Linked DNA regions of Homo sapiens: region 2 is linked to region 1. A link means that fine-mapping ties the variant in region 1 to the expression of a gene that starts in the linked region. Tissue or cell type: monocytes after muramyl dipeptide. Region 1 holds a variant in brackets; the other region holds the start of a gene. All regions are shown on one strand. Distances are between the middles of the regions.

Evidence for each region. PIP is the estimated chance that this variant, and not a neighbour inherited with it, causes the effect.
Region 2: FADS2 starts here. The variant in region 1 is the best candidate, but not a certain one, in a credible set for the expression of FADS2 in monocytes after muramyl dipeptide (Kim-Hellmuth 2017, PIP 0.74).

Annotation. Positions count from the first base shown.
Region 1 is chr11:62,477,564-62,480,247 of GRCh38, reverse strand. It overlaps a transcript of AHNAK not described here. Among named protein-coding and RNA genes, the nearest start is that of SCGB1A1, 60 kb to the right of the region's middle. The variant C/A (reference allele first, on the strand shown) is at 1,372.
Region 2 is chr11:61,826,893-61,829,576 of GRCh38, reverse strand. It overlaps FADS2 (fatty acid desaturase 2), which reads right to left and starts at 1,277. Exons shown (of 12, transcript NM_004265.4): 1 at 980-1,277. The coding sequence starts at 1,186. RefSeq lists silencers at 1,212-1,311, 1,332-1,431, 1,552-1,991 and enhancers at 1,583-2,260, 2,261-2,684.

The DNA.
Region 1 (2,684 bases):
CAACTGCTAAAGGGATTTAGAAAGGATCCGAGGCAAGATTGGCAGGGCTGAGGGTTCTGTGGCTGTCACTGTCCAGGACAGCTGGCCACTGGGTCCAGCCTGCTCCCAGCAGTGGGCACAGGCAGGGGAGCAGGGCCCTGACCTTCCTGGCAGGTGGCAGGGTCCGGGTGAGGCTTCCCAAGCTCTGCCTGCTACCCTCCTGCTTGAAATCAGGGGTGAGGGGTGTGAGGCCCTCCTATAAATCCGGCAGAACCCAGCCAGAAGGAGCACTGGGACCTCATCTCCCTCCCCTCTGGATTCCAGCTCCCCGGAATGGGCCAAGTTTGCCTTAACTTTTTATTGAAGTGAAAAACAGTCAAGATATGAATATTCCCTAAAGCCACTTTGGAATACTTTCAAGAATAGTTTCACAGTTAAACAGGCAAAAGGACAAGATTGCATGCAGGAATGGATCACCCACTTGGAGAGCCGGTTCTGGAAAGAGAGCTTTGATTTCATGCCTTATCTGTTTCGTGCGTCGTGGAAGAAGGGAATGGAAGGCATTTGGTTGGGGAGATGGAGACCTGCTGCTTGTATGGGGTATTCCCCTCTGCATGGTGACAGGTTCTTAGGGAAACATCTTAATAGAAGGCTTATGAGCAGTCTGGCAAACTTCCCACCCTCCTTGTACCCAAGACAAAAATGTTGGCCTGACAAAAATATTCAGGTAATTTTCTAGTATTTTTAGCACTTCGCAGACCCCAAACTACCCAAGTAATGGCTCTCTTAAAAAAAAAAAAGGGGCTGGGCAGGGTAGCTCACGCCCGTAATCCCAGTACTTTGGGAGGCTGAGGTAGACGGATCACCTGAGGTCAGGAGTTCGAGATCAGCCTGACCAACGTGGAGAAACCCTGTCTCCATTAAAAATACAAAATTAGCCAGACGTGGTGGTGCATGCCTGTAATCCCAGCTACTCGGGAGGCCGAGGCAGGAAAATCACTTGAACCTGGGAGGCAGAGGTTGCAGTGAGCCGAGATCGTGCCATTGTACCCCAACCTGGGTAACAAGAGGGAAACTCCGTATCAAAAAAAAAAAAAAAAAGAAAAAAGAAAAAAAAAGAAAAGAAAGCAAAGCTCTTAGAAAAGTTGTCCTACTATCTTATTACAATAAGTGCTGAAGTAGACAGACTCTGTCATCTTAACTGTGTCAACATTAATGAAAAGAAATTAGCCGAGCGCAGTGGCATGTGTCTGTAGTTCCAGCTACTCAGGAGGCTGAGGCAGGAGAATCACTTGAATCCAGGAGGCGGAGGTTGTAGTGAGCTGAGATTGCGCCACTGTACTCCAGCCTGGGAGACAGAGCAAGACTCTGTTTTAGAAACAAACAAACAAA[C/A]AAAAAAAATTAGTGAAACAGTGTCATCAAAGGCCTAGGAGGGATTTTTTTAATGGTGTATTAATGGTGTACATTTTCCTCTTTTGCTCTTTTCTTTTCTCTCTCTTTTTTTTTTTTTTTTTTTTTGAGGCAGGGTCTCATTCTGTCACCCAGGCTGGAGTGCAGTGGTATGATCACGGCTCACTGCAGGAGGATCGATCTCCTGGGTTCAAGCGATCCTCGCACCTCAGTCTCCTGAGTAGCTAGGACCACAGGCGTGTGCCACCATGCCCAGCTAATTTTTGTCGTTGTTGTTGTAGAGATGAGGTCTTGCCGTGTTGCCTAGGTTGGTCAGGAACTCCTGGGCTCAAGCAATCTCCATCTCCAAGCCCCAACCTTGGCCTCCCAAACTGCTGGGATTGCAGGAGTGAGCCACCGGCACCCGGCACCCTGTCCTGTTTTCTAGGCATTGCTAGGGGCAATAATTTGGGAGAAGTAAAGGACAAGAACAAAATCAAAGAAGAGGCATTCTTGTATCATTGCTCTCCTGAATTTGTTGGGGAGCCCTGGGGTGAGCCCTGTCAGGGGCTGGAGGGTCCAGTCTTAGTGTGAAAAGACCTCAGGGGCTCAGCCCCAGCTCCTGCTTAGCCCCTGGGCCCTAGCTGAGAAGAAGAGCGAATGTGTGTGCTGACCAGACCTGACCAGATCTGCTGGGTGAGGCTGCGGGTGGTGGTGAGAGGCCATTCTAAGAAACCACCTGGAATAGTGGGGGAGGAGATGGGAGGCCAGGGGCTCTGCTCTTAAGATAGCACTGAGTCCTGCGGAGAGGAATTCCTGGGAGGATTTTGAGTCCACCTGACTTCCCTTTGCTCTTGGTGTACAGGTCCCGGGCTTCACCACCCTGGCCTTCTTTCGCTTCCTCAAATGTTCCAGAGGCCTCTGTACCTATACACATGTTACTCCTTGGCCAGGAAGGCCCCCCATCCCCTAAGCCAATTATCTTCCAGGTTTCTGCACAACCATCACCACCTCTGGAAAGCCTTGGCCCAGGGCTTGACTGGGATCCCCCTGCTTTTTATAACTTTTTTTTTTTTTTGAGATGGAGTTTCACTCTTTTGCCTAGGCTGGAGTGCAGTGGCGCGGTCTCAGCTCACTGCAACCTCCGCCTCCCGGGTTCAAGTGATTCTCCTGCCTCAGCCTCCCTAGTAGCTGGGACTACAGGCGCCGGCCACCATGCCTGGCTAATTTTTGTTATTTTTAGTACAGAGGGGTTTCACCATGTTGGCCAGGCTGGTCTCGAACTCCTGACCTGTGATCTGCCCGCCTTGGCCTCC
Region 2 (2,684 bases), 650 kb after region 1:
GGATACCAGCTGCATCCTTAAATAAATGCCAGGATTTCAGACTGGGGTCCCCGGTGCGGGTAGCTGGTGCGGGGTAATCACTGAGCCACGCATTTGGTGGGGGTAAGGTGGGCAGCAATGGCTCCAGAGAGGCCCACAACCTTTAGGAGTGCAAGATGAGGGAAGGGTGTTCTTGGCAGGATTTAAAAAGAGAGAGCCATTGAGTTGAACGCCCGAGAGTAACCTCGAGTGCAGACGGACCTGTTGCCAAGCCAGTCTAGTGCTGCTAAATCCACCGGCTCAAGGCCTCACTCGACCTGGGCTTTGCAAACCCCAGGCCGTTCTCCTTCCACCAATCCCGGACGCCGGTCCCCAAGAAGGCCGGCTCGAGCTTGGGGTGAGTCTAGATAATCCCTGGAGCGTGGGAACCCGAGCTGCTGGGCGGTTTTTCCCAGGTGGCCATTGAGGAACTTCTTAGACAAGAGTCCCAGCAGGAGCGATCTCCGGCCGGGGACGAGCTTTCCTTCTCGCCACCCAGTCTGGATGGAGAGTGCGGGACAAGCGCGGAGTCCCACACCTGGCTGCCTGCGCTCCCGCTCCTTTCAGCGGCGCGCAGGGGCGGCCATCTTCCCCGCTGGGGGCGCCAAAGCCGTCTGGCCCGAGCGCCCCTCTTGGGGAGTCCCTGCCTCCAGACAAACCCCGAGGAAGGGGAGGACGCGTGGGTCCCGGCGCGCGCGGTAGATGCTTGCCCTGTTCTCCACCGCTGGGACTTTCACCGCAGCGCCGCCTCCCCGGGTCCCAGATCCGGTCTCCACCCCAGTCGGCCCAGAGGAGGAGGAGGATTGGGGAGGGGGTACGAGTGCAATAGATGCACTTTCCTTCCCTACAGGACGTCCCAAGCTCCATTCAGCGCCGGAGGTCTGTTTGGCCCACGGGGAGCCAGGGATCCTGACTCCGCCTGCAGCAGAGAAGGGTGGCTGGGGCGCCCCCAGACCCTTACCGTTGCATCTTCTCCAGCGTAGTGCCCGATGACCCGCTGGCCCCCCGGGTGCTGGATGGACCATTTGGTGATGTTGTAAACCTTGCGGTCAATGACCAGCCACCTGTCGGTGCGCAGGTTATGCTTCTGAATCTCCTCCCAGCTGAAGGTGGGCACCGACACCTCGCGCTCGGCGGCCCCCTCGCCCTGGTTCCCTCCCTTCCCCATGCTGCCTGCCGACTGTGACGCCCCGTGCACTGCGGCCTCCCCGCGCCGGCTGCTCGCTGCACAGACGGCTGCCTCCCAGCCGGTGTGTGCAGCCCGGGCCCTCTTCGCTTTCGGCTTTTGTCTTCTCCTACTCCTCCCACCGCGCCCCCTCCCCCAGCCTTCTCGCCTGCGCTCGGGAGTGTCCCTGCCTTCCTGGCGGAGGATCCCTGGCTTCCCAGTGCCCCCAAGCGGTCCCCTTCCTCCGCCCCTCCCTCAGCCCTCCCGCTATGGACTTTTGCCTCCAGTAAAAACTCCCCGGGAGCTCAGGGCCTCGACACCTCCTCTGCCCGCCCCTCCGGCTCCCCCCGCCTCGGGTTCCACATCCTCCCGCGTTCCCCGCCGCCCGAGTTTCCACAGCGATCAGCAGAGCGCCTGCACCAATCCGGTCGCGTCGCCCCGCCTGCCATTGGCCCAGGAGGATCTTTCGAAGGCCAGCGGGCTGGAGCGGCGGGTCCCCGGCTCCCCCGCCCTCCCGCGTGGAGTCGAGCCCTGCTGCGAGGCAGGCTACGTGTCCGACCTCCTCCCTCCCCCACTCTCCGGCCCCGGGCGCCGGAGGAGATCCTAGAGGAGATCCCGGTGGGGGCAACGAATGGGCTCCGCGCGCTCCGGGGCGCGTGCGCGCACGCCCGGCGCTCTGGGGGTTTGCACCTGATGCCGACACAAAGCCGGCGCGGCCACCAGGGTGCCAGCAAGCGGCCGGGCGGGTGGACCGGCGGGCTGCGGGGCACTCAACTCCAGGGCCGGCTTGGCTAGGTGACGCCCTTCCTTGGCGCGCGGCAGTCGAGACTCCAGTATCCCACATTGTCCGCGCCATCCACATTCTGGCGCCTTTCTGCAACCTCCCTAGAGACACAAGCCGGCCTTGGATTAGAGGGCTTTGAACCCTCTAGTCAGACAATCTTAGAAAAGAATTGCGGAACCTCTGCTCTGCTTTCTTGGTCTGGGCGCCATGGCTGCGGTGAGGGGGAAGGGAGGGGAAGGCAGAGGAAGGGGGCGATGAGGAACTGGCGCGGTCCTTGCCCTGGTCTCAGTAAGCTCAGTCTCTTTGGGAATCGTGGAAGCAGACACATCATTGGGCAGTGATGTTGTGCAGACTCCAGCAAATAAAGACTGCCGTATCGAAGGGATAGGAGGAGGGTTAGGTCTTTTAGGCGTGGGGCAAGAGACAGGCCCCTCAGACCCCAGCTGGATGGGGCGGCTTAGTGCCGGGCGTCCTGGGGGAAATGGGCCTGACTGCATCCGGAGGGCTAACGGGACACGTGGGAAGTAAGGATGAACAGAGAGGGTGGGGTGCACGAGGCTTGGGAATCACTAGAGGAGTTATAGGGCCCTCAGATTTCAATGGGATTTACAGGTGCCTGTGTGCTAGCACACCCTAATCATTAGATTCTCATCACAGGCTGAGAGGTAAACAGGACGCATATTATTACATCTCACTTGAAAATGGAGAGCCTGAGAT